4 separate regions of the Homo sapiens genome follow, and all the other regions are linked to region 4. Evidence: fine-mapped expression QTL. A gene starts in region 4. Each other region holds a variant in brackets. All regions are shown on one strand. Distances are from middle to middle. Region 1 overlaps BRF1 (BRF1 general transcription factor IIIB subunit). Region 2 overlaps BRF1 (BRF1 general transcription factor IIIB subunit). Region 3 has its middle 180 kb from the start of LINC02691. Region 4 holds the start of BTBD6 (BTB domain containing 6).

Region 1 (7,346 bases), 29 kb before region 4:
CTCTGCTTGCCTCCGTGCACCCTGCGAGGTCACAGGCCCCTCCTTTGGTTTGCTGGGGACACGCTGAGACTGTATTTAGAGAAAGGGTCTGGGAGAGAGAAACTCCTGCCCCTTCCCCCTGGGATGGTTGCCAAGGGGTTGAGACAGGCACCCCATGGAATGTGGGGAGCATCTGCTCCGGGTCCACCAGCAAGAGACGTTGAATGCCAGTGTGTTTTGATCTCTGTTTTTAAAATCTCAGGCCTTTTGGGATGATTTCTTTGATGTTCTGAAGCGACGGTTCTGAAATGCCGCTAGGTGGGGCTCTCTTCATTGACCTGATGAGCCTTTCGTTTGGGACGCGTTTCTCAGGGAAATTCTTTTTCTGTTCTCTTGGTCTGTTTTTCCTAGTATAGCACGCATAGTAAAGTGCATGAAATGTGCTGACCTTCCATGAACCACCTGACAAATCCACATGAGTCAGGCCTGCAGCAGCTCAGAAAGCACCTGCTGCCCACTGGCTTCACTTGGTTTTCTGCTTCATACAGTGGGAATCATATAGAAAGGAATTTAAAAAAAAAAAAAAGACTTGTAATTTTTAGAGCATTTTAGGTTCACAGCAAAATGGATCGGCAGAGAGTTCCTGTAGACTCTGAGCACCTCCCACCACACAGCTTCCCCTGACCCCGTCAGTGCCCCCCTCCACTGTGGTGCACGAGCTGCAGTCAGCCGCCCCACATCGACTCATCAGGATCACGCAGGCTCTGTCCACACACCCGGGCTCAGGATCACGCAGGCTCTGTCCACACACCCGGGCTCAGGGTCACGCAGGCTGTATCCGCACACCTGGGCTCAGGGTCACGCAGGCTGTATCCACACACCCGGGCTCAGGATCACACGGCCTCCACCTCACACCTGGGCTCAGGATCACGCAGCCTGTATCCACACACCCGGGCTCAGGGTCACACAGGCTGTATCCGCACACCTGGGCTCAGGATCACGCAGGCTGTATCCACACACCCGGGCTCAGGATCACACAGGCTGTATCCACACACCCGGGCTCAGGGTCACGCAGGCTGTATCCACACACCCGGGCTCAGGATCACGCAGGCTGTATCCACACACCCGGGCTCAGGATCACACGGCCTCCACCTGCACACCTGGGCTCAGGATCACGCAGCCTGTATCCACACACCCGGGCTCAGGGTCACGCAGGCTGTATCCACACACCTGGGCTCAGGGTCACGCAGGCTGTATCCGCACACCTGGGCTCAGGGTCACGCAGGCTGTATCCACACACCTGGGCTCAGGGTCACGCAGGCTGTATCCACACACCCGGGCTCAGGGTCACGCAGGCTCTGTCCACACACCTGGGCTCAGGGTCACGCAGGCTCTGTCCACACACCTGGGCTCAGGGTCACGCAGGCTGTATCCGCACACCTGGGCTCAGGGTCACGTGGGCTGTATCCACACACCCGGGCTCAGGGTCATGCAGCCTCCACCTGCACACCTGGGCTCAAGATTATGCAGCCTCCACCTGCACACCCAGGCTCAGGGTCACGTGGGCTATATCCGCACACCCGGGCTCAGGGTCACGCGGGCTGTATCCGCACACCCGGACTCAGGATCACGCAGCCTTCACCGCACAGCCGGGCTCAGGATCATGCAGCCTCCACCTGCACACGCAGGCTCAGGATCACACAGCCTCCACCTGCACACGCGGGCTCAGGATCATGCAGCCTCCACCTGCGCACGCGGGCTCAGGATCATTCAGGCTGTATCTGCACACCTGGGCTCAGGATCACGCAGCTTCCACCACACACCCAGGCTCACGCTGGGCGGTGCGTGTTCTATGGGTTTAGATGAATGCGTAGTGACGGGTAACCACTGTTACAGTTTCATACAGAGTGCTTTCAGAGTCCTAAAGATCCCCTGAGCTCCACCCATTCATCCCTCCTTCCCCAGCCTCCAGCAACCATTGATCTTTTCACCGGCGCTTGGTCATGTGGTCGTAGAGCTGGAGTTGCACACTGTGCATCCTTTCTCTGTGCAGCCTGTCACTCAGCCATGGGCATTTAACTGTCCTCCAGGTCTCTGCACAGCCTGTGGCCTCTTTCTCTTTAGTGGTGAGTAATATTCCACCGCCTAGGTGCGCCACAGTTGATTTATCCTTTCACCTGCTTGCTGAAGGGAATCTGGGCTTGGGCGATTATGAGTGAAGCTGCTGTAAACGTCACGTGCAGGTTTTTCTGAGTGATTGCTGGGTGGTGTGGTGAGAGTATGCTGAGTTTTGTAAGAAACTGCCAAACCCTTTTCCAAAGCACCTGAGCCATTTTGTGCTCCCAGCAGCAAGGAAGGAGAGCTCCTGTGGCTCTAGTCGTCCGCATCTGGCTTGCCAGTGTCTGGGCTGGAGCCGTTCTAGAACGTGCTGTTTTGGAGCGTGTAAGTAGTTTATTCTTTTATTGCAATGTAGTATTTCATGGGATGAATAGACCACAGTTTATCTCCTTTTCCTGTTGATGGACGTCTAGGGTGTTTCCATTCTTGGCTGTGCACAGGAAGCTGCTGTGCGTGTTCTTGCACCTGGTCCTTCGGTGGACACAGGTGCCCCCTCCGCTTGGGAGTTTACCTGCGAATGGGTGTCTGGGTCCTGAGGTCTGGGTGTGCTCATCATTAGATAGGGCCACAGGGTTTTCTGTAGTGCTTGTACCAGTTCATGTTCCCACCAGGAAGCAGTGTAGGAGAGTCCCAGTGGCTCCGCAGCCTTGTTCACATGTGGCATCATCAGCCTTTCCAGTTG[TAG/G]TCTTTCTGGTAGGTGTGTAGCACACTCGCTGCGGCATTAATTCGCTTTCCCTGGTGAGTAATTATGGCCACAACCTTTGCTCATGCTTCTTGGCTGTTGGGACGTCCTTTCTGTGTGAAGTGCCTATTGGCGTCTTTTGTGCTTTTTAAAAACTGAGTTGTCTTTTTCTTACAGATTTGTAGAGTTCTTTATATATTCTGGATTCGAGTCCTTTGTTGGATATACATGTTTCGAATCCTCCTCCCACGTCTGTAGCTTGTCTCACTCTCTTAATGTTGTCTTTTGACGAACAGAAACTTCTGAATTTTTTTTTTTGAGACTGGGTCTCACTCACTCTGTGGTCCGGGCTGGAGTGCAGTGGTGCAGTCGATGCTCCTTGCAGCCTCAACCTCCCAGACTAAAGCCGCCCTCTCACTTCAGCCTCCCGAGTAGTTGGGATCACGTGTACATGCCACCACATCCACTCATTTTTAATTTTTTTCTTTGACATGGAGTCTCACTCTTTTGCCAGACTGGAGTGCAGTGGCGCGATCTCGGCTCACTGCAGCCTCTGCCTCATGGGTGCAAGCGATTCTCCTGCCTTAGCCTCCCGAGTAGCTGGGATTACAGGTGTGCACCACCATGCCCGGCTAATATTTGTACTTTTTAGTAGAGACGGGGTTTCACCATGTTGGTCAGGATGGTCTCGATCTCTTGACCTCGTGATCTGCCCGCCTCGGCCTCCCAAAGTGTTGGGATTACCGGCATGAGCCACTGCGCACGGCCAATTCTTTTTTTTTTTTAAATAGAGATGGGGGTCTCACCATGTTGGCCAGGTTGGTCTTCAACTCCTGGGCTCCAGTGATCCTCCCACCTCAGCCTCCCAAAGTGCTGGGATGACAGGTGTGAGCCACTGCACCCTGCCAGAAATTTCTTAATTATAATGAAGTCCCAGTATATCAGTTTTTATGGTTAGGGCTGTTTGTGACTTGTTCAAGAAATTCTTATCTACTCCAAGGTCTGAAGATACTCTTGTGTTTTCCTCTGGAAGCTTTATTGCTTTATACTTTACATGTAAGTGGTGATATGCCTCAAATCTTTTTTTTTTTTTTTGGAGACAGGGTCTCGCTCTCTTGCTGCCCAGGCTGGACTGCAGTGGCAGGATCATGGCTCACTGCAGCCTCAACCTTCCAAGCTCAAGCAGTCCTCCTACCTTGGCTGGGCCTACAGGCTTGCACCACCACACCTGGCTGATTATTTTAGCAGTTGGATCTCACTATGTTGCCCAGGCTGGTCTTGAACTTCTGGGCTCAAGTGATCTACCTGCTTCAGCCTCCCGAAGTGCTGGGATTACTACAGGCATGAGCCACGGCACACAGCCTGAGTTTACTTTTAGAATTCATTTGTTGGAAGGAAGTCTAAGGAGACTCGCAGGCTATGGCTAGCTAATTAGTAGTTGGTTTCTATGTGAATATCTGTTTATTAATAACATATTTGGCCAGGCACAGTGGCTCATGCTTGTATCCCAGCACTTTGGGAGGCGGAGATGGGTGGATCACAAGGTCAGGAGTTCGAGACCATCCTGGCCAACAGTGTGAAACCCTGTCTGTACTAAAAATACAAAAAATTAGCTGGGTGCAGTGGCATGTGCCTGTAGTCCCAGCTACTCAAGAGGCTGAGGCAGGAGAATCACTTGAACCCGGGAAGCAGAGGTTGCAGTGAGCTGAGATCGCACCACTGCACTCTAGCCTGGGTGACAGAGCGAGACTCCATCTCAAAAAAGAGAAAGAAGATGGTAAAAAATAACTTACTGCAGTCATCATAAGCCCCCATTTTAGTCCTTTTGGGCTGCTGTAACAGAACACCATAGACCAGAAAGGCAAAACAGCAGGAATGTGTTTCTCACACTTTTGGAGCTGGAAAGTTTGAGCTGGAGATGGGGGAGACAGTTGCCTCCTCCCCAGCTCTCTAGTGAGGGCCGCCTCTCAGCTCCTTCTCACTGTGGCCTCCTCCCCAGCTCTCTAGTGAGGGCCGCCTCTCAGCTCCTTCTCACTGTGGCCTCCTCCCCAGCTCTCTAGTGAGGGCCCCCTCTCAGCTCCTTCTCACTGTGGCCTCCTCCCCAGCTCTCTAGTGAGGGCCGCCTCTCGGCTCCTTCTCACTGTGGCCTCCTCCCCAGCTCTCTAGTGAGGGCCCCCTCTCAGCTCCTTCTCACTGTGGCCTCCTCCCCAGCTCTCTAGTGAGGGCCGCCTCTCGGCTCCTTCTCACTGTGGCCTCCTCCCCAGCTCTCTAGTGAGGGCCCCCTCTCAGCTCCTTCTCACTGTGGCCTCCTCCCCAGCTCTCTAGTGAGGGCCCCCTCTCAGCTCCTTCTCACTGTGGCCTCCTCCCCAGCTCCCTAGTGAGGGCCCCCTCTCGGCTCCTTCTCACTGTGGCCTCCTCCCCAGCTCTCTAGTGAGGGCCGCCTCTCGGCTCCTTCTCACTGTGGCCTCCTCCCCAGCTCTCTAGTGAGGGCCGCCTCTCGGCTCCTTCTCACTGTGGCCTCCTCCCCAGCTCTCTAGTGAGGGCCCCCTCTCAGCTCCTTCTCACTGTGGCCTCCTCCCCAGCTCCCTAGTGAGGGCCCCCTCTCGGCTCCTTCTCACTGTGGCCTCCTCCCCAGCTCTCTAGTGAGGGCCGCCTCTCGGCTCCTTCTCACTGTGGCCTCCTCCCCAGCTCTCTAGTGAGGGCCGCCTCTCGGCTCCTTCTCACTGTGGCCTCCTCCCCAGCTCTCTAGTGAGGGCCGCCTCTCAGCTCCTTCTCACTGTGGCCTCCTCCCCAGCTCTCTAGTGAGGGCCGCCTCTCGGCTCCTTCTCACTGTGGCCTCCTCCCCAGCTCTCTAGTGAGGGCCGCCTCTCAGCTCCTTCTCACTGTGGCCTCCTCCCCAGCTCTCTAGTGAGGGCCCCCTCTCGGCTCCTTCTCACTGTGGCCTCCTCCCCAGCTCTCTAGTGAGGGCCGCCTCTCGGCTCCTTCTCACTGTGGCCTCCTCCCCAGCTCTCTAGTGAGGGCCCCCTCTCGGCTCCTTCTCACTGTGGCCTCCTCCCCAGCTCTCTAGTGAGGGCCGCCTCTCGGCTCCTTCTCACTGTGGCCTCCTCCCCAGCTCTCTAGTGAGGGCCCCCTCTCAGCTCCTTCTCACTGTGGCCTCCTCCCCAGCTCTCTAGTGAGGGCCGCCTCTCGGCTCCTTCTCACTGTGGCCTCCTCCCCAGCTCTCTAGTGAGGGCCGCCTCTCGGCTCCTTCTCACTGTGGCCTCCTCCCCAGCTCTCTAGTGAGGGCCCCCTCTCGGCTCCTTCTCACTGTGGCCTCCTCCCCAGCTCTCTAGTGAGGGCCGCCTCTCGGCTCCTTCTCACTGTGGCCTCCTCCCCAGCTCTCTAGTGAGGGCCGCCTCTCGGCTCCTTCTCACTGTGGCCTCCTCCCCAGCTCTCTAGTGAGGGCCCCCTCTCAGCTCCTTCTCACTGTGGCCTCCTCCCCAGCTCTCTAGTGAGGGCCGCCTCTCAGCTCCTTCTCACTGTGGCCTCCTCCCCAGCTCTCTAGTGAGGGCCCCCTCTCAGCTCCTTCTCACTGTGGCCTCCTCCCCAGCTCTCTAGTGAGGGCCGCCTCTCAGCTCCTTCTCACTGTGGCCTCACGTGGTAGAAGAGCTGGGCTAGTTCTCTGGGGTCCGGTTTTTAAGGGCACTGAGCTCATCATTAGTGCTCTGCCTCCTGACCTAGTCTCCCGCAAAGGCCCTGCATCTTAATACCATCCCCGTAGGGGATAGGATTTCAACATAGGAATTTTAGGAGTCAGACATTCTGACCATAGCAGCCCTGCATGCTGGGAACACGAGCTGGTGCCTGTGGGGTCGGGGCTTGGGATCGAGTCCCAGCCTCAAGTGTGTGGCCTCAGAGAGTACCTCTCTCTTACCTTTTATTACAGAATTTTCAAACATACAGCAGAGAGCTGGTAGGTAAGGAGCCGTAGCTTCAGCGGGTCCCCTGTCAGCTGACTCTGTTTCCCTCTGGGCCTTGCTGGGCCGCGGGGACGGTCTGTGCTGGTGTGTCTGGCTGGTGCTGCACATGTGCAGGTGGCAGCTGGCACGATGCCCTTTCTGTCCATTCTTTTGGGGTCTTGGCTTGGCCCAGGCCTCAGCTCTGGGGACAGTGACCAGCCTTCCACGTCAGCTCAGCTGGACTGCAGGCCTCAGAGCTGTATGAGCTCTAGGCAGGTGGCCTTAGGTGCTCAAGGTGGCAGGGCCACAGCCGGGCTGGGGGCTCCATGTGATGCTGCTGACTGCCAGGGGCCTGGCAGTGTGAGGCTTGACCTGGACCTGCCAGACTGTGTACCCTGGCCACCGGCTTCCTTGGGATGCAGGCTCAGCAGCTGCCCACCTCTGGCTGCTGGTCATCATTAGTGAAGTTTGGCGTGAGCAAAACATCAGCCCTCACTTTCTCCAGCTCATGTGCCCTTATCAAATAAATCTGGGAGGTCAGTTTTTGACTTTATATGGGGATGGAGGCCGCCTCAGGTAGTCTTTGCAGGAGGACTGTGGGTTTGGGTGCCAGAGGATGCAGTGGGAAC
Region 2 (7,346 bases), 48 kb before region 4:
CGCGTGTGCCGCGGTTGCGGCGGCACGGACATCGAGCTGGACGCGGCGCGCGGGGACGCGGTGTGCACCGCCTGCGGCTCAGTGCTGGAGGACAACATCATCGTGTCCGAGGTGCAGTTCGTGGAGAGCAGCGGCGGCGGCTCCTCGGCCGTGGGCCAGTTCGTGTCCCTGGACGGTGAGTCCCGCGGGCTGGCGCTGCGCGGATTTCTCGGTGCGGCTTAGGCGGGCTGGAGGCGGTGACGGCGCGGCCGGGACCAGCGCCTCGGTACCGCACGCTCTGTCGGGGCGCGCGGTTCTGCGCCGTCTGGGCGCGAGTGTGGATCCCCTTGGCGAGAATGTAGACCTTCTTCGCGCGCCTGTGGACCCCCGTGGCGTGCGTGGACTTCCTCGACACACGCGTGGGCCAGGGCAGCCAGCACAGGGAGGGTTGAAGAGAGCCTGGGGAGCCCAGAAGGCCCCTCAAGCTGCCCCTCACTGTCACTCTCTGTGCCTGCAGTTTTGTTTTCAGCAATGTCTGGTACTTAGAATCCGATTGCTGCTGCCCTTGGCCTTGGTGGTTACCGGGCGGATGCCCTAGGGCCACTCAGGCTGCTGCAGGCCTCGGAGGGGACGTTTCAGTGATGGGCAGTATTGCGGGCTGGGGATGGACCCCAGCCTGTGGAAGGAGCTGGACTGTGGCCAGTTTCAGGTGGTTGTGAATAGAGCTGCTAAAAGGATTCATTTGCAGCTCTCTGTGTGAACATACGTTTTCATTTCTCTGGGGAACTTAGCTGTATGTGTAACTCTATGGGAAACTGTCATGAACTGTTTTGTGATGTGGCTGTGCCATTATGCATTCTCACCAGTTGCCCCACATCTTCACCAGCACTTGGTGTTGTCGATGTTTTTATTTCGGTTGTTCTAACAGGTGTGTGGCATCTCATCATAGTGGTATTCTGTATTTCTCTACTGGCTAGTGATGTTCAACCTTATTAGGGTGCTTATTTGCCATGCCCGAATCCTCTTTGTTGAAATGTGTGCTCAAGTCTTATTTTTTTATTTATCTCGAGACAGGATCTCACTCTGTGGCCCAGGCTGGTGTGCAATGGCCCAGTCATGGCTCTCTGCAGCCTTGAACTCCTAGGCTCAGGCAATTCTCCTGCCTCAACCTCCTGAGTAGCTGAGACTACAGGTGCATGCCACCATGCTGTGATCATTTATTTTATTTTATTTTTAGTAGAGACAAGGTCTCTATGTTGCCCAGGCTGGTCTCAAACTCCTGGGCTCAAGTGATACTCCAGCCTTGGCCTCCCGAATTGCTGGGATTACAGCGTGAGCCACCACACCCTGACTCTCATTTTTTATTTGGGTTGTTTTCTTATTGTTGAGTTTTGGGAGTTCTTTGTGGATTGTAGTTACAAGCCCTTTGTTGTATATGTGATTTTCAAAGCAGAAGTTTTTTTTCTTTTGAGATGGAGTCTTGCTCTGTTGCCCAGGCTGGAGTGCAGTGGCTCGATCTCGGCTCACTGCAAGCTCTGCCTCCCAGGCTCACGCCATTCTCCTGCCTCAGCCTCCCGAGTAGCTGGGACTACAGGAGCCCACTACCATGCCCGGCTAATTTTTTTTGTATTTTTTAGTGGAGACGGGGTTTCACTGTGATAGCCAGGATGGTCTCGATCTCCTGACCTCGTGATCCGCCTACCTCGGCCTCCCAAAGTGCTGGGATTACAGGCGTGAGCCACTGCGCACGGCCTCAAAGCAGAAGTTTTAACTTTTTTTTTTTTTTTGAGACAGAATCTTGCTCTGTGGCCCAGGCTGGAGTGCAGTGGCACAATCTCGTTTCACTGCAACCTCTGCCTCCCAGGTTCAAGTGATTCTCGTGCCTCAGCCTCCCAAGTACCTGGGATTACAGGCGTGCGCCACCTCACTTGGCTAATTTTTGTATTTTTAGTAGAGACAGGGTTTCACCCTGTTCGTCAGGCTGGTCTTGAACACCTGACCTCAAGTGATCCGCCTGCCTCAGCCTCCCAAAGTGCTGGGATTACAGGCGCGAGCCACCGCACCTGGCCTAAATCTGTGGTCCATCTATGTTTTGTATAAGGTGTGCTTTGTAGGCTGAGGCTCATTGTTTATCTGGAGGTCCCCTTGTTTCAACACCGTTTGTTGAAAGACTGAAGGCCTTTGCTCCCTCGGCTGTGCTCACTGGGCCCCGTCCGTGCAGGTCTGTCTCTGGGCCTTGTGTCCTGCCCTGTTGATCAGGTGCCGTTTTCCTTTGTCAGCATCACACGCTTTTTTACTATACCTGTTATATTGTCCTGAAATCAGATATTGTGAGTCCCTCAACCTTTGTTCTTCCTTTTCAAAGTTGTTGTGGCTATTAATTTCCCTTTCTCTTTTTAATTTTAGAGTAAGTTTGTGCATCTCTGCAGGTCACATATTCTTACCTGAAATGCTTGGGACCAGAAGTGTTTTGGATACCAGAGTTTTCTGATTTTGGAATATCTGCATTATAATTACTGGTTAAGCATCCCTAATCGAAAAATCTGAAATCTGAGATGCTCCAGTGAGCATTTCCTTTGAGCATCGTGTTGATACTCAAAAAGTTTCATGTTTTGGAGCATTTATTTTTTATTTTATTTTTTTCTTGAGACGGAGTCTCGCTTTGCTGCCCATGCTGGAGTGCAGTGGCACTATCTCGGCTCACTGCAAGCTCCGCCTCCTGGCTTCACGCCATTCTCCTGCCTCAGCCTCCCAAGTAGCTGGGACTACAGGCGACCGCCACCACGCCCGGCTAATTTTTTGTATTTTTAGTAGAGACGGGGTTTCACCGTGTTAGCCGGGATGGTTTCGATCTCCTGACCTCGTGATCCACCTGCCTCAGCCTCCCAAAGTGCTGGGTTTACCAGCGTGAGCCACTGCACCGGGCCGTTTTGGAGCATTTATAATCTCAGATTTTTGGATTTGGGATGTTCAACCTGTACAAAAGTCCTGGTGGGGTTTTCATTGGAATTGCATTAAACCTCTTGATATATTTAGGGAGAGCTGACATTTTTTCTTTCTTTCTCTTTTTTTGAGACAGAGTCTCACCCTGTCACCCACGCTGAAGTGCAGTGGCGCGATCTGAGCTCACTGCACCCTCCGCCTCCCGAGTTCAAGTGATTCTGCTGCCTCAGCCTTCTGAGTAGCTGGGACTGCAGGCACACGCCACCACACCCAGCTAATTTTTGTATATTTTTTAGTAGAGACGGGGTTTCACCACATTGGCCAGGCTGGTCTCGAACTCCTGACCTCGTGATCCGCCCTCTTCGGCCTCCCAAAGTGCTGGGATTACAGGTGGGAGCCACTGTGCCCAGCTGACATTTTTTCTATGTTGAATCTTGTAGTCCATGGAACACAGTGTATGTTTGCATTCATTTAGATTTTCTTTGATATAGTCTGTCAGTGTTGGGTAGTTTTCAGCATACAGCTTCTGGACTTTTTTTTTGAGATGGAGTCTCGCTCTGTCACTCAGGCTGGAGTGCAGTGGTGCAACCTCGGCTCACTGCAACCTCTGCCTCTTGGGTTCAAGCGATTCTCGTGCCTCAGCCTCCCAAGTAGCTGTGATTACAGGAGCCCACCACCACGCCTGGCTAATTTTTGTATTTTTAGTAGAGACAGGGTTTCACCATGTTGGCCAGGCTGGTCTCGAACTCCTGACCTCAAGTGATCCCCCCCCACTTCAGCCTCTCAAAGTGCTGGAATTATAGGCATGAGCTGCCGTGCCTGGCCCTCTGGACATTTTTTAGATGTGTACCTAAGCTCTATTAGGAGTTATTATAAGTGGAATTTTTTTAATTTAGTTTTCAACTCTTCATTGCTTGTTTATATAAATATGGTTGATTTCTGTGTGTTGTCCTGTTTCCTATGGCTTTGCTAAACTTACTTGTTCTAAGAGGTTTTTTTTTTTTTTTCTTTTTTTTTGAGCTGGTGTCTTGCTCTTGTTGCCCAGGCTGGAGTGCAGTGG[C/T]ACCATCTTGGCTCACTGCAATCTCCGCCTCCCAGGTTCAAGAGATTCTCCTGCCTCAGCCTCCCAAGTAGCTGGGATCACAGGCACCCGCCACCGCACCCAGCTAAGTTTTTTGTTTTTTTTTTTGAGACGGCGTCTTGCTCTGTCACCCAGGCTGGAGTCCAGTGGCACAATCTCGGCTCACTGTAAGCTCTGCCTCCCAGGTTCATGCCATTCTCCTGCCTGAGCCTCCCAAGTAGCTGGGATTACAGGCGCCCAGCACCACGCCCGGCTAATTTTTTGTATTTTTAGCAGAGGCGGGGTTACATGGATGGTCTCAATCTCCTGACCTCGTGATCCGCCCACCTCGGCCTCCCAAAGTCCTGGGATTACAGGTGTGAGCTGTTGCACCCGGCCGCAGTTTTTGTATTTTTAGTAGAGATGGGGTTTTGCCATGTTGGCCAGGCGATCCACCCGCCTTGGCCTCCCAAAGTGCTGGGATTACAGGTGTGAGCCACCACACCTGGCCCCTAAGAGTTTTTAATACACTCCTTGAGTTTTTTTTTTTTTTTTTTTTTTGAGATAGAGTGTCGCTCTGTTGCCCAGGCTGGAGTGCAGTGGCGCAATCTGGGCTCACTGCAACCTCCCCCTCCTGGGTTCAAGCGATTCTCCTGCCTCAGCCTCCTGAGTAGCTGGGATTACATAGGAGCCCACTACCATACCCGGCTGGTTTTTGTATTTGTAGTAGAGATGGGGTTTCACCATGTTGGTGAGGCTGGTCTTGAACTTCTAATCTCAAGTGATACACCTGCCTTGGCCCCTGAAAGTTCTGGGATTACAGGCGTGAGCCACCGCACCCAGCTTTTTTTTTTTTTTCTGGGACAAAGTCTCACTGTTGCCCAGACTGGAGTGCAGTGGTGTGATCACAGGTCACTGCAGCCTGGAACTTCTGGGTTCAAGAGATCCTTCCACCTGAGACTCCAGAGTAGCTAGGACTACGGGCATGCACTACCATGCCCAGCTAATTAAAAAAATTTTTTTTTGGTTGGGGAGACAGGGTCTAGGGTCTTGCTCAGTCACCCTGGCTGGAGTGCAGTGGTCATGGCTTACTGCAGTCGTAACCCCCTGGGCTCCAGTGACCCTCCCAGCTCAGCCTCCTGAGTTGCTGGTACTACAGGTGCGCCCTACTATACCCAGCTAATTTTTGTATTTTTCTTGTAGAGATGGGGTTTTGCCATGTTGACCAGGCTCGTCTGGAACTCCTGGGCTCAAGTAATTCTCCCGTCTTGGCCTCTCAAAGTTCTAGGATGACAGGTGTGAGCCAACGCCAATTTTTTTTTTTTTTTTTTTTTTTTTGTAGAGATGTGGTCTTGCTTTGCTGCTCAGGCTGGTCTCGAACTTCTGACCTCAAGGCATCCTCCCACCTTGGCCTCCCAGAGTGCTGGGATTAGCGGCATGAGCTGCTTTGCTCAGCGCCGGATGTTCTGTTGAGGGTTCCTGCTGATGCTTGCGTGGGATATTGGCCTGTAGTTTTTCCTGTAACGTCCTTGTCTTGGGTATCAGGGTTCTGCTCCTTATGGAATGGGTTGGGAAACGTTTCCTCTTCTATTTTCTGGAAGACATTATGTAGAGTTGGTGTTCTTTCTTTCTGAAATGTTTGGTAGAATTCACCAGCGTAGCCATCTGGTCCCAAAGCTTTCTTTCTCAGAAGATTCTGCACTGTGGTTTCGGCTTCTTTCATCACTGAGGTTCTAGTTATATTTAAGATGCTGTGTTTCACCTGGGGTGAATTAGCCGCTTGTGTTGAGGAATTGGTCCACTTGACCTAGTTGTTGAATTTGCCCAGAGAGTTGTTCGAAGCATTCCCTTATCCTTTTGATATCTGCGGGGTCCACAGTGGCCTCCTTTTTCCTTTCAGATGTTGGTGTTTTGTGTCTTTTTTTCCCTTTGTCTCTCTTGCTAGAAGTTGATCCGTGTTTTTGATCTTTTCTAAGAACTGGCTTGGGCTTCATTGAGTTTTCTCTCCTGCTCTTCCCTCCCCATCGTCTTCCATGCTCATACTCCCTGGGTATCTTCCTAGGACTGCTGGGCACAGAGTTTGCAGCTGTGTCACAGTTGCCAAGACTTGGATGTCTGTTGGGATGATAACAACAGTAATGAAAGCAAGTTGTCATGGCAGCAGACGCAGGGTTTCCCGGGCAGGCACAGTGTTAAGTGCATCCGGGCCTGGTGACAGCGCACTGCCCTCACTGTGCCCTGCCGGGGGAGGATGGTGGTGTGGAGCAGTGCAGAGCTGGAAGTCTGTCACCCGGGTGCTGTCAGAACAAGCTCAGAGCCAGCGCTGTCAGGTGGCCCCAAGACGCCTCTGAGCCCAGGCACACTCTCTGGAGGGAGGCGCAGGCCCAGCAACCAACTGTGGTGGTCCTGGGGGAAGTGCTGCGAGGCGGCGGGTTCTTAGCCCCTGGGGACCGGCGCAGGTGGTGCCTGGGCCGAGAGTGGGGAGGAGAGAGGGGATCTGTTGCTCTGGGCAGCCCCTCTGTCTCCCAGGCAGGCTCTCTAGGTGCCCACTTGGCATCCTTCCTCCCTCGTCACAGTGGTGATCACAGGGGGCTGGAAACCTTGGTGGCTTCTCAGTTTCCCTGGCACACAAGTAGGCCCCAGCCGCCCCTTCCTCCAGCTTCATCTTGAAAGCTGAGCTTTCTCTCTGAGCTGTCGTTTTCTAGTCCCAAGGCCACTGTCTTTCCTAGGTGTTTTGCCTATTAATTGAGAACTAAGCCTGATACAGCTTCGCAGTTTACTCTGGAATATTTAACTAAGGCATCAGGGCAGGTGACCAGAGGCCTCAGGAGAGTCCCCAGAGGGTCCTGACCTTGGAAGCCAGGCCCCACGGGGGAAACCACACTGGTGCTCCAGCGTCCCGGGGCACCCGAGCAGAGACTGTGCAGAGAGAAGGGTGGGTGAGGACTGAGGCTCAGCGTGGCTGGAGGGGCCAGGCAGACGGTGGAGTTGGGGGCCGTTGGCAGTGCCCTGAGGAGGCCGTCTGCTCCACTGAGGCAAGGCGGGGCTTCCCTGTGAGCCCACATCAGTGTCCTGCACTGTGTGTGCCCTGAGGCTTCCCTCTGCCAGCAGGTGATGGTGATGGCGCCCACACACCAGACATCCTGGGCTCCTGCTTGCAGGGGTCCCTCCTCGTCCTGTGCAAGGAGCAGCACACCTCAGTGTCACCAGAACTTGTGGGGGTGGGGAGCGTTTCCCGTAATCACAACTTTCAGTGGCTTCACAGTTAGAACTTCGAAGCTGGGGTGTCCGTGAGTGCTGCTGTTTTCCGTTTGGGGTCACGATGCAGCCGGACCTAATTTGTGACATGGCTGCATGTCACCTGGCG
Region 3 (7,346 bases), 850 kb after region 4:
TCTTTCTCACATGGGAAAACACAATCATCCCTTCTTAACAGTCCCACAGGTCTTAACTCATTTCAGTATTAACTCAAAACTCCACAATCCAAAGTCTCATCTGAGACAAGGCAAGGCCCTACCACCTATGAGCCTGGAAAATCAAAAGCAAGTTAGTTACTTCCAAGATACAATGAGGGTAATGGCATTGGGTAAATACACCCACTCCAAAAGGGAGAAATCCACCAAAACAAAGGGGTCACAGGCCCCATGCAAGTCCAAAACGCAGCAGGGCAGTCATTAAATCTTAAAGCTCCAAAATAATGTCTTTTGACTCCATGTCCCACATCCAGACCACACTGACGCAAGGTGTGGGCTCTCAAGGCCTTGGGCATCTCCAGCCCTGTGGCTCTGCAGGGTACAGCCCCCTTGGCTGCTTTTATGGGGTGCCGCTGAGTGCCTGTGGCTTTTCCAGGTGCGTGGTGCAAGCTGTCAGTACATCTACCATTCTGGGGTCTGGAGGACAGTGGCCCTCTTCTCACAGCTCCACTAGGCAGTGCCCCAGTGGGGACTCTGTGTGGGGCCTCCAACCCCACATTTCCCCTCCACACTGCCCTAGTAGAGGTTCTCCGTGAGAGTTCCAGGCCTGTTGCAGACTTCTGCTTGGACATCCAGGCATTTCCATACATCTTCTGAAATCTAACCAGAGGCTCCCAAACCTCAGCCCTTGCCCTCTGTGTACCCACAGGCTCAACACCACATGGAAGCCACCAACACTGAATGGCTTGCACCTTCTGGAGCCATCATCTAAGACATATCTGGGGCCCTTTGGCCATGGCTAAAGCTGGAGTGGCTAGGATACAGGGAGCAGTGTCCCAAAGTTGTACAGGGCAGTGGAGCCCTAGGCCCAGCCCATGAAACCATTCTTCCCTCCTAGGCCTCCACGCCTGAGATCGGAGGGCTGCCGCCAAAGTCTCTGAAGTGCCTTTTAGACATTTTCCCCATTGTCTTGGCTGTTGACATTCAGCAACTCATGCAAATTTCTGCAGCTGGCTTGAAGTCCTCCCCAGAAAATGGGTTTTTCTGTTTTTAAATCTTTTGAGGAGTCTCATGCTGTCACCCAGGCTGGAATGCAGTGGTGTGATCTTGGCTCACTGCAATCTCTGCCTCCTGGGTTTAAGTGATTCTCGTGCCTTAGCCACCCAAGTAGCTGGGATTACAGATGTGCACCATCACGCCCAGCTAATTTTTGTATTTTTAGTACAGATGGGGTTCCACCATGTTGGCCAGGCTGGTTTCAAACTCCTGGCCTCAAGTGATCCACCCGCTGCAGCCTCCCAAAGTGCTGGAATTACAGGCATAAGCTACTGCACCTGATGGGGATTTTCTTTTCTACTACATGGTCAGGCTACAATTTTTCTAAACTTTTATGCTCTGCTTCCCTTTTATTAATAAATATAAGTTCCAGTTTTAGATAATCTCCTCGCTCATGCATATGACCATATGTTGTTAGAAGTAGCCAGGCCACATCTTGAATGCTTTGCTGCTTAGAAATTTCTTCTGCCAGATACCCTAAATCATCACTGTCATGTTCAAAGTTCCACTGATCCCTAGAGCAGGGTTACAACACCACCAGTCTCTTTGCTAAAGCATAGCAAGAATGACCTTTACTCCAGTTCCCAATAAGTTCCTAATTTCCATATGAGACCTCCTCAGCCTGGACTTAACCGTCCATATCACTATCAGCATTTTGGTCACAACCATTCAACAAATCTCTGGGACGTTCCAAACTTTCCCTCCTCTTCCTGTCTTCTTCTGAGATCTCCAAACTCTTCCACCCTCTTCTCGTTACCCAGTTCCAAAGCTGCTTCCACATTTTCAGGTCTCTTCTCTTCTCTTCCTGGTACTTCCTGGTGCCAATTTTGGCACTGCTATAAAGAACTACCTGAGTGCTCACTTTGGCAGCACATATACTAAAATTGGAATGGTACAGAGAACATTAGCATGGTCCCTGTACAAGGATGACAAAGAAAAATTAAAAGGAAAAAAATTTTTAAAAAAGAACTACCTGAGTCTGGGTAATTTATAAAGAACAGGAGTTTAATTGATTCCCAGTTCTGCAGGCTGTACAGGAAGCATGGCTGGGGTGCCTCAGGAAACTTACAATCATGGCAGAAGGCAAAGAGGAAGGAGGCACATTTTACATGGCCAGAGAAGGAGGAAGACTGGGAAGCAGGAGGTGCAACATACTTTAAAATAACCAGATCTCATGAGAACTCACTATCGTGAGAACAGCAAAAGGGAAATCTGCTCCCATGATTCAGTCACCTCCCACCAAGCCCCTCCTCCAACACTGGGGATTATAATTTGACATGAGATTTGGGTGGGGACACAAATCCAAACCATATCAGTGGGGACTTGCGTGGGCAGCACAGGGTGAGTATGGGGCCAGGTGCACATGTGTGGGCAGCACCGGGTGGGTATGGTGCCAGCTGTGCACATGTGTGGGCTTTGCAGCCAGGCATCCTGGGTTTGAATCTCGGCTTCACTGCTCAGAATTCCAGGACTGGGAGCAAGTCAGGTAAACTGCCCACCTCCTTTCCTTCACCTATGAATAGGGATATATGTAATTTGCATCATCTTTATCGAGTTACTGTGAGTGCCTCATGGGTGGAGTGCCTGATGAGGGCCCCCTGTCGTCACTGGTGATGGTTTTGTTATTATTGTTATTGATTTGCTGGTGGCTGGAGGCATTAGGCACACTGCAGACAAAGGCTGAAGAGGCTGTTTTTTAGTCTGTCTCTGTCGATCTGTTTAGTTCCATCCTTTAGTGAATCTCCACAGCTCTCCCATGTGGTGTGCTTCTTGAGCCCCTGTGAGTCTGCAGTCACCTGCCTTTTGCCCAAGCCTGTGCACGACATCTGGGCTGATGGTGGCATTGTTGAGCCACAACAAAGCCCCATCCACAGCAGCCACAGGGCTGTGTCCCGTTAGAACTAATTATCTCCAGACCACATTCTTCAGATAAGGAGCATTGTTCTTTGACAGCCGAGGATGGAAGTGGTACCTAACATGCAACTACACTGGCTGTGAGGCTGGAGGCCTCAGACCGACTCCTCTGTTGCCTGGGAGATGGACAGGGAGGCCATGGCAGCACGGAGGCAATAGAGGGCTGGGCCTAGACACTGACTGAGAAGTTGATTGGCAGGAGCTGGAGGGCAAAGGTCACAGGAGGAGTGGACTGGGTCTTTGTGCCACCTGTGTTCTCAGCACCACCTCCAGCATCCCCACCCCCACCCCCATCACTCCTGCCATACTAAGAGCTCTCCACCTGCCTACCCTGAGTGTCCTGAGACCCAGGGGCATTGCTTCC[A/G]CATCCTGCCACAGGCCATGTGCTTGGATTGGGTGCTTTTAGAGAGAAAGCTGGCGTCAGGCTGAGCTAACTTCCTTTGGATCTTAGATGCCGTGTTAGATCAAGTTTTTCAGAGCAGATGCTGAGCCAAAGATTCAGGTGCAGGTGATTTTCCGAGAAGCTGCTCTCCGGGGAGAAGGGGTGGCGGGAGCAGCGCAGGGAAGATGTCTTACTCTGTTTTGTGTTGCTATAAGGGAATATCTGAGCTTGGATAATTTATAAAGACAACAGGTTTATTTGGCTCACAGTTCTGCAAGCTGTACAGAATTATGTCACTGGCATCTGCTCGGCTTCCGGTGAGGGCCTCAGGTTGCTTCCACTCATGATGGAAGGTGGAAGGGGAACAAGAATGTCACATGATGGGAGAGGAAGCAAGAGAGATAGGAGGAGGTGCCATGCTCTTTTTAACACCAGCTCTTGTGTGAATTAAGAGTGAGAACTCACTCACTACCATGGGGACAGCCCCAAGCCATTCATGAGGGATCCACCCCCATAACCCAAACATCTCCCACCAGGCCCCACCTCCAACATTGGGGATCACATTTCAGGTGAGATTTTATTCAAACCATATCAGAAGGCGCCCCGGCATCAGGATTTGCCATGACAGTGAAAATTGAAGCTACCACGCCCTAAGACCCAGGTTCCAGAACTCACAAGACACCCCTTCTGCCTCATTGGATTGGCCAAAGAAGCCATGAGGCCAGCCTAGAGTCAGGTGGAGGGAAGTGGACTTCCTGGGTGAGTGGCTGCACCCACAGGGAGAGGAGGAGCTGTCCGGATTTATTTGTCACAGGCCACCAAAGCTCTGCCGCCTGTCTCCACTGACACACTCCACACTACTTAACGCTCCACGGCCTAAGTCTCTCAGTTGTTTTGACCTAGTCCTTCACAGCCTGTTCATTTGCCTTTTGGTGGACTAAAATTCATTCTCTATTTATTTATTTAAAAGGAACTTCAGTAGACAAGAGTTCCTCCATTTGTGAATATTTTCAGAAGCGCTTTTTTATGATTCAGCATGAGTAACAGCTTTATTCTGTTCTAAAATTTTACTCTGATATAAAATTCTTGGTTCATACTTTCTTTTCCTGGAGATTTTGCAGGCATTATTTCCCTCTTCTCTAAGATGAGGTGTTGCCGTAGAAAATCTGAAGCCAGCTTGGACTTCTCTTCTCATGTCAGGGCCTTCATATTTTTGCCTCGGTGCCAAACAAATTCTTCGTGTTTGACCCCCAAGTCTCAGTGCTGATCAAGTGCACCAATTTTTGTAGAAACATGATATACCCTCTTAATCCATAGATTTCATCTTTTTTAGTTTCACCACATTTTCTTGAATTATTTGAATTATTTTTCTTTTATATTTGATTTTCTCCTGCAAGGCCACCAATTATGTGTGTGTTGTGTCGGCATTTTGTGTTTTCCTTTTCTATCCTTTCCTCTAAACCATCGCAACTCTTTATTCTTTTCTGGTGAATTTTTTTCACTTTTTCCAAGCTTGACTCCACATCCCTGGCAATGGTTTTAGGAGAATCTATTCTCTTTTTCTTTGATTCTAGTGTGGCCTTCATTTTGTGATTTTTAAAATTCTGCTTCTTTTCTTGAGCTCTGCCTGCCTATTTTTGAAATCTCCTATCATCTTTTTGTTTCTTATTGAAGTCTGTCTTGGCTTTTGTTTTACGTGAAAGACATTTTCATTTAGATCGTTAAGTTTCTGATTGTTAAGAAGGTTTCCATCATCTTCCCCAATGCGAGGATTTTTTGTGTCTTTGCTTTTTACCTTTTCTATTATTTTCTTCCTTTTTCTTGTAATGTTTTCAGTGGACACTATTTTCATTCCTTTCTGTCATTGTTTATTTGTGCATATAAAGTGAGTTCTTCCCGAAACAACTGTCTGCAGTGTGTGGGAGGGCAGTCCTGGGGCGGGGAGCTTCCCTGGCTGGCTGTGCAGCCCCGCAGCCTGGCCTCCGCCTCGCCCTGGAGCAGCGAGGTCACTCGGCAAGGCCTTCACACTCTCAGGGGCTCAGAGTTGTGGGTGCCTCCTGTTTTCCATGAGGATAGAATTCCCATCTCTGTTTCTCATCCTCGGTGACAAAAAGAGAGACAACTTTACTAGAGGTTCACTTTAACAAGTAGCGGACACTTTTTGCTTGGTCGTTTTGTGTGCATGTGTGTTTGTTTCATTTTGTTTGCTACAACAAAAGCAACAACTAAAGAAATAAATACCCTTAATTTCATCACTCTGGAGATCTTTCACAACATTGACGACTCAGACGTCGTCGGTCTTCTCTCCCGGCCTCAGCTGCGGTCAGACTCCAGGTGAGCTGCACCTGGCCGTCTCATTTACGCGGCCTCTCTGGCATTGGATAAGAACTCTATGGCCAACTTACCCAAGAGGTGGTCTGCAATATCTTTGAATACATTAAGACCTGGTGGTCTTATAGAGAAATCTGTAATGATTCATTCACTCGTTGCTACAGACCAAATGTTTCCTATGTGGAAGCTCTGACCCCAATGCGATGGTATTTGCAAGTGAGGCCCCTGGGAGCTGATGAGGCTTAGAGGAGGTCATGAGGGCCCGTGACAGAACATCCTCTCTCTGCTATGAGAGGACACAGCAAGAAGGAGGCTGTCCGGGGACCAGGAAGCAGCCCTCTCTGGAGCCAACCCTGCTGCCACCTTCACCTTGGACTCCCAGCCTCCAGAAATGTGAGGAATGAATGTCCACTGTTAAGCTGCCCCATCTGTGTTGTTTTGTTGTAGTGGCCTGGATGGACTAAGACATTCATTCAATCATTAATTTATTCAAAGATATTGCAGACCACCTTGTGGGTAAGTTGGCCATAGAGTTCCTATCCGATGCCAGAGAAGCAGTGTAATTGAGACGGCCAGGTGCAGCTCACCTGGAGCCTGACCGCAGCTGAGGCAGGGAGAGAAGACAGGCAATGAGCGGGCCAGCGAAGGAAGCTTTCTGTTTCTTTAATGCAGATGAACCAGCGAGGAGAGAAAGGGCCAGGGCAAGGCACTGCTGAGCCGGGCGGGCTGCTGCTCCGTGCTCACTGGGGAATGTTGTTCAGGTGAGTCAGGGCCTCACGCCATGGAGGACATTTACGCAATCCCACCTGACAATGGCTCCCGAAGGAAGAGACAGGTGCACAGCGAGTACTGCAATTCAGAAATTCACGGAGCAGCAATTCTGAAAAGCAGCGGGGAGAGCAGGGGTCAGAGCAGGGCCAAGGACAGCAGCCGGGACACAGGTTTTTTTGGGATCTCTGGACTGGCAGCACGCCAGGCCACAGAACCCCTGTGTGGACAGTCTGTGCCACCCCCGGCCTCCTCATTTCTGAAGATGAGCTCTCCCCGGCACCCGGGACGCCCACACCCAGGGTCACTGCCAAACAGCACCACCGTCTGAATCTCAGGACCTTGCCCTGGATGCCGGCTCACTCCCTCACACACGTCCTGTGGACTTCACTCTAAAACGCTCCCAGAAGCTGGCCGCTGTGTCCACCTCCACCACGGACCCCAGATGCAGCCCTCCTCCTGTCGCTGGGCAGACCTGCGGCCAGGGTGTCCTCGCTGGACGTGCACTGCCCGTCCTGTTTCAGCTGCTGTCCCCTCAGCAGCCAAAGGGGCCCTGGCAGTGAGATCAAGGTACTTCCCGCCCCTTCCTCCCAAAACTCCCCACTCAGATCTACAGCAAAACCCAAGTTCTTCAGTGCCTCGGAAGACCCTTGGTCCTACCAGGTCACCACCTATCCCAAGATAGATTCCAGATGACCTGGTGGGTGGACTAACGCATTTTCAAGGGCAAGGTTGATTACACTTGGTTTTTGTTTTGTTTTCTTTAGAGACAAGGTCTCGCTTTGTCACGCAGGCTGGAGTACAGTGGTGTGATCACAGCTCACCAGAGGGAGCAGCCTCACACTCCCAGGCTCAAGTGATTCTTTTACCTCAGCTT
Region 4 (7,346 bases):
GCCCATCGGAATCTGGGCTGGAGGTGTGGCTGGTGGGAGCACATGTGGACAGAACTGGTTTTGTGTTCATGGGTGTGCAGTTGTGAATGAAATGCTGCGTGCACCGTGTGATGACGCCCTGGGAGGAACCTTGCAGTCAGGTTTTCTTCTAAGCAGATGCCATCATTGGCGAGACGGCAGCACGGCCTAAAGCAGCGGCTTAGAGGAAGAAGGCAGGGCCCTGGGAGCCCCAGCAGCCAAGGGAGGCCAGCCAGGCTTGCGGGTGTGGGGTGGCTGCTCCACGGGCCATCGGAGTCTTTAAAGACTGCACAAGAGATGCATTTTAAGAGAAAAAAAGCAAACATTTCCTTAAATACCAATGCTGTTTCTGGTTGTGATCTCTCCATCTCAGGTGAATGTGTACGTGCTTGGAAAGACGTTTCTTCTCTTGGCAAGAGAGCTCTGCATCAATGCGCCGGCCATAGGTAGGCATCTGGGTGAGATGCTGGGGTGTCCGGCAGGCTGCTGTAGGGACCAGCGTGCCAAATGTCCTTTGAACAGTGGAGGGAAATCCTGTCCAAGCATGGGACCCCTCAAGGTAAGAAATGTTTCTTAAAGCTGCTAGGAGCTCAGTAATGTGGGGCCTTATTTTCTAAGACACAGTCTCGCTGTTGTCCAGGCTGGAGTGCAGTGGCACAATCGTAGCTCACTGCAGCCTCAAACTCCTGGCCTCAAGTGATCCTCGTGCCTTCGCCTCCCAAAGCACTGGGATTACAGGCATGAGACCGCACCTGGCCTGGGGCTTGCTTTCTGCTGCAAAACCAGAAGGCCTGTTGTCAGTGCCTGTCAGGTGGCAGGAAGGTGTAGACAGGGAAACAAGTGCTGCGTGCTGGGAGCATCTTGTGTGGACAAGGTTTAAGGGACACACCTGGCTCCAGGTGCCTCTGGACAGATGGGGACAGTGGGGCAGCTCCTGGTTGTGCTTTCCAGCCACAGCCCTCTTTTGTGGTTTTTCTGCCACTTTTGTTCTGTGTTGTGTGCGAGTTTGTGGAACTCCTGTATGCCTTTCTTGATGTGTGTTAGGTGTAGGGTAAGTCCTGTCTCTCCCTCGAGGCAGCAGCAGTGTTCATGCATGCAGAATCTAACCTAGCGGAAAAGTCTAGAAGGAAAGGATCAAAACAGCACTCACTGCCCGATGGTTCTGACCTACCCTTTCTTTACCAAGCAGATGACTGGTTTCCATGGCCCGCTTAGAGGCCCCTTTCTTACTTTGCCTGTTTGCATCTAGGAGCGTATGTCCTTTGGGTAGAGAAGCACCAGGTGGGGCTGGGTCACCAACAGGACTGAGCAACACGGGCTGCAGCAGCAGAGGGGCACCGGCTGAGGCTATACACTCGGCCCATGCCCTCTCCCAGGTGCCAAGAGGGGCCATCCCTCTTTTCGGGGGTCATACAGGTTTTCCAGAAAACAACTGCCTACAGGGTATGCAGAGTGGGAGGAGAGAGACAAGGGGTGGGAGAGCCTGTTTCACCCTATAGTCCACTCCTGCAACAGGCTGTCCCGCAGCAGTGTCACAGCTAGTGACAGTCCCCAGGGTCCAGAACGCTGGGCCCAGCAGAATGCTCCCCCGACAGTCTGTTCATAGGGTAGGACTCTGAGGTGCTAGTGATGCATTAGGACATAGAGACAACCAGGCACCTGGTGTTTCCTAGGGTGGCCCAGAAGCCAGCCAGCAACCCAGGGGACAGATGGGCTTCACTGGGGCGCAGTTTGCTCCTAACCACATAGCATGTTCAGCATGACAGGTTTTCTCCTCGGGATGGGAGGGAGCTGTTCTGTTGCATGAGAAAGAGAATACCCCACTGTACAACTGCTGTAGTCATTTACTGACACGTGGGTGTTATTTTAGGCAACCTTTATTACAGAAGTCCACTATTTTAAGTGACTTTTTGCCAATTTTAGATTTGAAGGGAAGGTCTCAAGTTAAGCTTGGAACCACTTAGAATCCAAGAGGGTAGCAGGAAGATCCAACCCCTCAAAGCAGGTGGCATGGGTGCCACTGGGAGGGGATCTGGGGCCTGTCTTGAGCCGTAAATCTTCCTCCACCTGAGACGTGCACCCCACTGTACCAGAGATGCCTAAGACTCCAATCCCTGGGTTCTGGCTGTGTGGAAAATGTCTCTACACAGTCAAGCTTCAGCTGACTACATGTCAAAGAGAGACAAAGTTAAGAGCAGCCTTTCATGGTGTCAAGAAGCAGTTAGCATCTTGACTTCCCCTCCACTCACTCGCTGACCTGCTGCAGCCTCCCCGGGCACCTCAGGCATAGAAAATGAGCTCAGGGATCTGCCCACCCTGGACCCCAGTCCCGTTGGTGCTGTCCGAGGAGCACTGGAACTGGAAGGCCACCTTTCCACACTGCACTTCCGTCATCCCCTCCTGCCCAAAGTAGCTGAGTTCGCTGCCGTCCAGGACGGCACTGGCCGTGTAGAAGGTGTCTTGTTCAACCTGGACCGGGTGTTCAAACCAGACCGGGAAGGTGTTACTGGATCCGTCTGACATGAACTTGGTCAAGTTCTGAGCCAGAACCACCCCGAGCCGCTTGAGCTCAATCTTCACGCTGTACTCAGCCTTCCCAGAGCTGGAGCCATACAGGCCCAGCCCTGCAATAAATACCCTTCTGTCCACTGCAAACTGGATGCTGTCGCAGCGCCCGCGGTACCGCCACTGGTTGCTGCGGTAGGCAGAAGACTGGAATCGGTGGCACCTCTGCGGGGCGAGGCCCTTCCTCTTGGTCAGGGGAAAGTCCAGGCGGGGCTTGTTGGTGGCCGTGTACCACAGGAAGATGCTGTGGGTCTCCTCCAGAGTCAGGATGTCTGACTGGGCAGCGCCGTTGGCAAACTCCTCTAGGGTCATGGTTGGAATTCGGACCAGATAGAGGGCTCGCCCCAGAACATGCCTCTTGTTTCGTGGGGTGATTGGCAGCCCCTGCCTCTTGCACTCCGCCTCGGCCCAGTTCAGGACGGCCTCGAAGACCACCGCCTCTTTGGTGTTGAGGGCCTCCCGAGTGACAATGATCTCCAGCGTCTGCCGGTCTATCTCACAGAAGCCTTCGGACCGTAGGGCCATCTCGGCCTGTGCGTCAATGACCTCCCAGCAGCGCTGCGTCAGCTCGGGCTCCTCAAACAGCCGGCTCTGGGACAGCAGGACGCAGGCGTTCTTGGCTTCCAAACTTGTCTCCAGAAAGTTGACACAGGCTTTTGCCAATGCTGGGACGATGTACTTCTTAGCAGCGTACAGAGTGGCCAGCACCGTGTCGGCTTCCAGATCGATCTCATCACTGTACATGTACCTAGGCGAGGCAGGGCCCGCGTCAGGGGCTGGCTCCCAAGCACCCATCGCGGGGCTGGGCCTGGGAGAGGAGTCCATCAGCTCCTGTGTGCTTCCCTTCAGAAGCCTCCGGAGGCCGCCTAAAACGGACCCACCCGTCCCTCCCCAGTAGAGTGGACTTACTTTAAGAGGATCAGAAAGGCTGCGGGCTCCACGTCTGGAATGTGAATTTCAGATTTGACTTCCGCCAGGTCTCCGTAGAACATGGCATAGAAGACGGAGCTGCCGACAGCCAAGACGTACTGGGAGGAGAAAGCGCCGCCGTGAGCCTGGCTCTCCCGCAGGCTGCGTGTCAGCCACACGGCGGACGGGGCGGACGGGGCACGCGTTCCGAGAGGGGCCGCCGCTACCCACCTTGTGGGCGGGCACCGTCCTGGTCGCCCCCGGGGGCCCCACGACGAAGTGCACGTCGGCCATGAGCTCGTTGTTGAACATGAGCGCGTTCCTGCAAAGGTAGAGGCACGGGCTGGGGGCGTGGGCGCGCGCGGGCGCGGGGGCCGCGGGGCACGGGCTCACCTCTCGCGCAGCGTGGGGCGGCAGCACCGCCAGCCGGGGCTCTCCTGGTGGTTGTTGCCGAGTGTGGGCGGCGCGGGCGCGGGCGGCGGCGGCGCTGGCGCGGGGGCGCTGGGCGGGCTGCGCGGCCCGGCCTTCCTGCCCACGGCGGCGCCGGCGTTGCTGTTGGCTAGGTCCGCGGCCGCGGCGCTGGCGGGAGCGTAGAGTTCCGCCGCCATCTTCGCGGGCGGGGCGGCGGGGGCAGCCTCGGCGCCTGTGGACGCCGCGCCCCGCGCCCTCGCGCCGCGCCGGGGCCTCGGGAGCGGCTCTGCAAGCAAAAGCAAGGAGGTCAGGCACTGAGCGACGCGGCCGTGCAGGCAGGCTAGGGGCAGCAGCATGGGCGGCGGCGGCGCTGTGACCCGCGGGGCTGCCACCCGCTCCCCTGCCACCCCCGCCCCTGCGACCCTGCCCGAGCCCAGCCTAGCGCAGCCCGGCCAGGCCCGGCCGCGGGGGGCGCCGTCCCGCCCGCCCGCCCGCCCGAGCCCGTACCCGCCGCGGCGCCGGTGCGTCACGCTGCGTCAGGGCCGCGCCCCGCGCGACGTCGCTGCCTCGCGGCCCCGCCCCCAGGCCCGACATCCTCGAAGCTGCTCGAGCTTCTGCCCAGCAACCGGCGCGAGCCGCGCGCTGTGCAGAGGTAGCCGTGGAAGGCGGCTCCCGGCGCTGGCAGGCGGCCGCCCCCAGACCCGCAGTGCCATGCGCAGGTGCTTGCGCCCGTTCTTCAGTTAGCGATCTTTTGGTTAGGAACGCAGGTGGACCTGCTTGTTTGGCCATTTGCATTCCGGAGTCTGCCTCTGGCCGCGGCCTGTGGGATGGTCGTTGGGCTTCCTCGTTCGTTCAGATGCTTCGCGATTTAGCTTGCTACGGACGCCAGCAGCCAGCGCTTGCAGAGAGCGCGGTCCACTCTGCTCTGAGGGCTTTACAGGGGCAGGCGCTGCTATTTCCCGGCATTTTCCTCGAGGAAATAGGCACAGAGAGGTTAGTCGCGCGCTGAAGGTCACACAGCCGGCGGGTGGGCAAGTCAGGATCTGGCCCTGGGCCTGCAGCCCTGGAGCTTGGGCCCCAGGGCGCGCCCTGCCTCTGTGGCTCTGCCTGTGGATCGCAGTCGCAGGCTCGCTCCTTGTGGGGCCTCTAGCCTCCCGGCCTGGGGCTAATCCTGGGAGGTGCGTGGCATGGGGCACTGGCTTTGCTGATGAGGAGACCAGACTTCAGAGGCCGTGTCACCTGGCCTGGGCCGCACAGCTGGTGCATGCCAAGCTCGCGTGCAGACGAAGCTCCAGAGGCCTGGCTGTCAGGAGGGTTCCTCCCCGAGGACACACACGCAACCTCCTGGACCGCCAGGCTTTAGACTTTTAAAACTTCCATATGCAGGAAACCCCACAGGACGCAGCCAGCATCTCGGGTCATGGGTGCACCTGTCACCGCAGTCCTGGGCTAAACAGTGAACAGGAGCTCTGTGTCTCTGTGGTCGTTACAGTTGTAGTGAATGTTCCCTGGGAGAGTCCTCTTCAGAAGATATTTGCGGTATTTTCAACAAAGGACTCTCCAGGATGGAGGAGCAACTACAAGTCAGGAAGGAAAAGGCTGACAACCCAGTTTTTTAAAAAACGGGCAAAGGACGTGAACAGACACCATGCAATGGCCCAGAGTGCACAAATCATCATTTCTCCCAGGAATGGGGTGCCCGAGCCCCCAGGCGGCTGAACTTGAGACTTGTCACGTAGTGTTGGTGGAATGCAGAGCAGCTGGAGATCACCTGCTGCAGGTGGGTGCGTAACTCCGCACGGCCAAGCCGTTTGGAAAGCTGTAGCATATGCATGAGAGTCCGGAAAGTTCCGAGAGAAAGTGTGTGGATGCACCCGCCAAGGACACACCCACCGAGGCCACAGCTGCGATTTCATAGTGTGGGACCCCACTGGCAAAGACACGCTGGCTGCTGTGGCCGTGGTTTCTGTCCCAGCCGTCTGTTTCCATAGAAAAAGGTAACGGGCATAAGCAGTTTCCAGGAGAAATACAAATGGCCAGAGTGGAGACAGCCTACATGTCCATCAGCAACAGAAAGGATCAGCAGGTTGTGGTGGGTCCATTTGGGGAATGCAGTGAGAAGGAATAACTTACAGCAGCACACAAGACCTGGGCGACAGCTGTCTCCGGGGGTGCCAGGATAGAATTGCTGAGCCGCCAGAGGTAGTCAGCGTCTTGATCTGCATGGTGGTGTGGAGCATGTGAATAATAATTTTCATCCTTAGAAAGAAACCACCCTTTGCACTTTGATTTTTAAATATGTTACAGTGTAGGTTGGGCGCGGTGGCTCACGCCTGTAATCCCAGCACTTTGGGAGGCCAAGGTGGGCGGATCACTTGAGGTCAGGAGTTTGAGACCAGCCTGGCCAACATGGTGAAACCCCATCTCTACTAAAAATACAAAAATTAACGGGCACCTGTAATCCCAGCTATTCGGGAGGCCAAGGAAGGAGAATGGCTCGAACCAGGGAGGCGGAGGTTGCAGTGAGCTGAGATCATGCTACTGCACTCCAGCCTGGATGACAGAGCGAGACTCCGTTGACCAGGCTGGTCTTAAACTCCTGGCCTCAAGTGATCTACCTGCCTAGGCCTCCCAAAGTGCTGGGATTACAGGTGTGAGCCACCGCGCCCAGCCTATTCTTTTTTGTTTGTGATAATGGTCATCCTAATGGACATGAGGTAGTGTCATGTGGTTTTGATTTGCATGTCCCTGATAAATAATGATGTTGACCATCTACTCATGTGCTTGTTGGCTATTTGCATGGCGTGTTTGGAGAAACGTCTGTTCAAGGGCTTTGCCTTTTTTTTTTGAGACAGAGTCTTACTCCGTTGCCCAGGCTGGAGTGCGGTGGTGAGGGTGCACTGCAACATCCGCCTTCCAGGTTCAAGCGATTCTTGTGCCTCAGCCTCCCAAAGAGCTGGGATTACAAAAGTGCAGTTTGCCCATTTTTAATCGATTTTGTTCCTGAGTTGGAGTTTTTTGTATATTCAGGCTGTTAACCCCTTATGAGATAGATGGTTTGCACATAGTCTCTTCCATTCTATAGGATATCATTTCTGTTAATAGATTCCTTTGCTGTGCAGAAACTTTTTAGTTTGAGGTCATCCCATTTGTCTATTTTTACTTTCGTTGCCCTTGCTGTTGGTGTCATGTTCAAGAAATCATTGCCAAGACCAATGTCGTGAAGTCTTTCCCTTTGTTTTCTTCTAAGGGTTTTACAGTTTCAAGTCTGTGTTTGGGTCTTGCATCGGTTTTGAGTTAGTTTTTGTGTATGATGTAAGGTAAGGGTCTATCTTTATTTGCAAGTGGATATCCAGTTTTCCCAGCGCTGCATATTGAAGAGACCATCCTTTCCCCATTGTGCAAGAAGTTCTTGTCACCCTTGTTGAAGGTCATCTGTCTGT

What was found.
Region 1: its variant is fine-mapped to the expression of BTBD6 in visceral fat (GTEx, PIP 0.95).
Region 2: its variant is fine-mapped to the expression of BTBD6 in lung (TOPMed, PIP above 0.99).
Region 3: its variant is fine-mapped to the expression of BTBD6 in tibial nerve (GTEx, PIP 0.97).

Annotation. Positions count from the first base shown.
Region 1 is chr14:105,274,964-105,282,309 of GRCh38, reverse strand. The region is part of intron 2 of BRF1 (BRF1 general transcription factor IIIB subunit); the gene reads left to right. Among named protein-coding and RNA genes, the nearest start is that of BRF1, 22 kb to the left of the region's middle. RefSeq lists an enhancer at 7,207-7,346. The variant TAG/G (reference allele first, on the strand shown) is at 2,780.
Region 2 is chr14:105,293,275-105,300,620 of GRCh38, reverse strand. It overlaps BRF1 (BRF1 general transcription factor IIIB subunit), which reads left to right. Exons shown (of 18, transcript NM_001519.4): 1 at 1-175. Among named protein-coding and RNA genes, the nearest start is that of BRF1, 4.1 kb to the left of the region's middle. RefSeq lists enhancers at 799-878, 6,359-6,488, 7,129-7,248. The variant C/T (reference allele first, on the strand shown) is at 3,983.
Region 3 is chr14:104,395,631-104,402,976 of GRCh38, reverse strand. It overlaps the pseudogene RNU6-684P. Among named protein-coding and RNA genes, the nearest start is that of LINC02691, 180 kb to the right of the region's middle. The variant A/G (reference allele first, on the strand shown) is at 3,353.
Region 4 is chr14:105,245,625-105,252,970 of GRCh38, reverse strand. It overlaps BTBD6 (BTB domain containing 6), which reads right to left and starts at 4,438. Exons shown (of 4, transcript NM_001387567.1): 1 at 3,886-4,438; 2 at 3,724-3,814; 3 at 3,493-3,611; 4 at 1,878-3,331. The coding sequence starts at 4,259. The coding sequence ends at 2,299. It overlaps BRF1 (BRF1 general transcription factor IIIB subunit), which reads left to right. Exons shown (of 18, transcript NM_001519.4): 5 at 392-464. RefSeq lists enhancers at 2,441-3,230, 4,022-4,812 and silencers at 3,837-3,886, 4,087-4,646.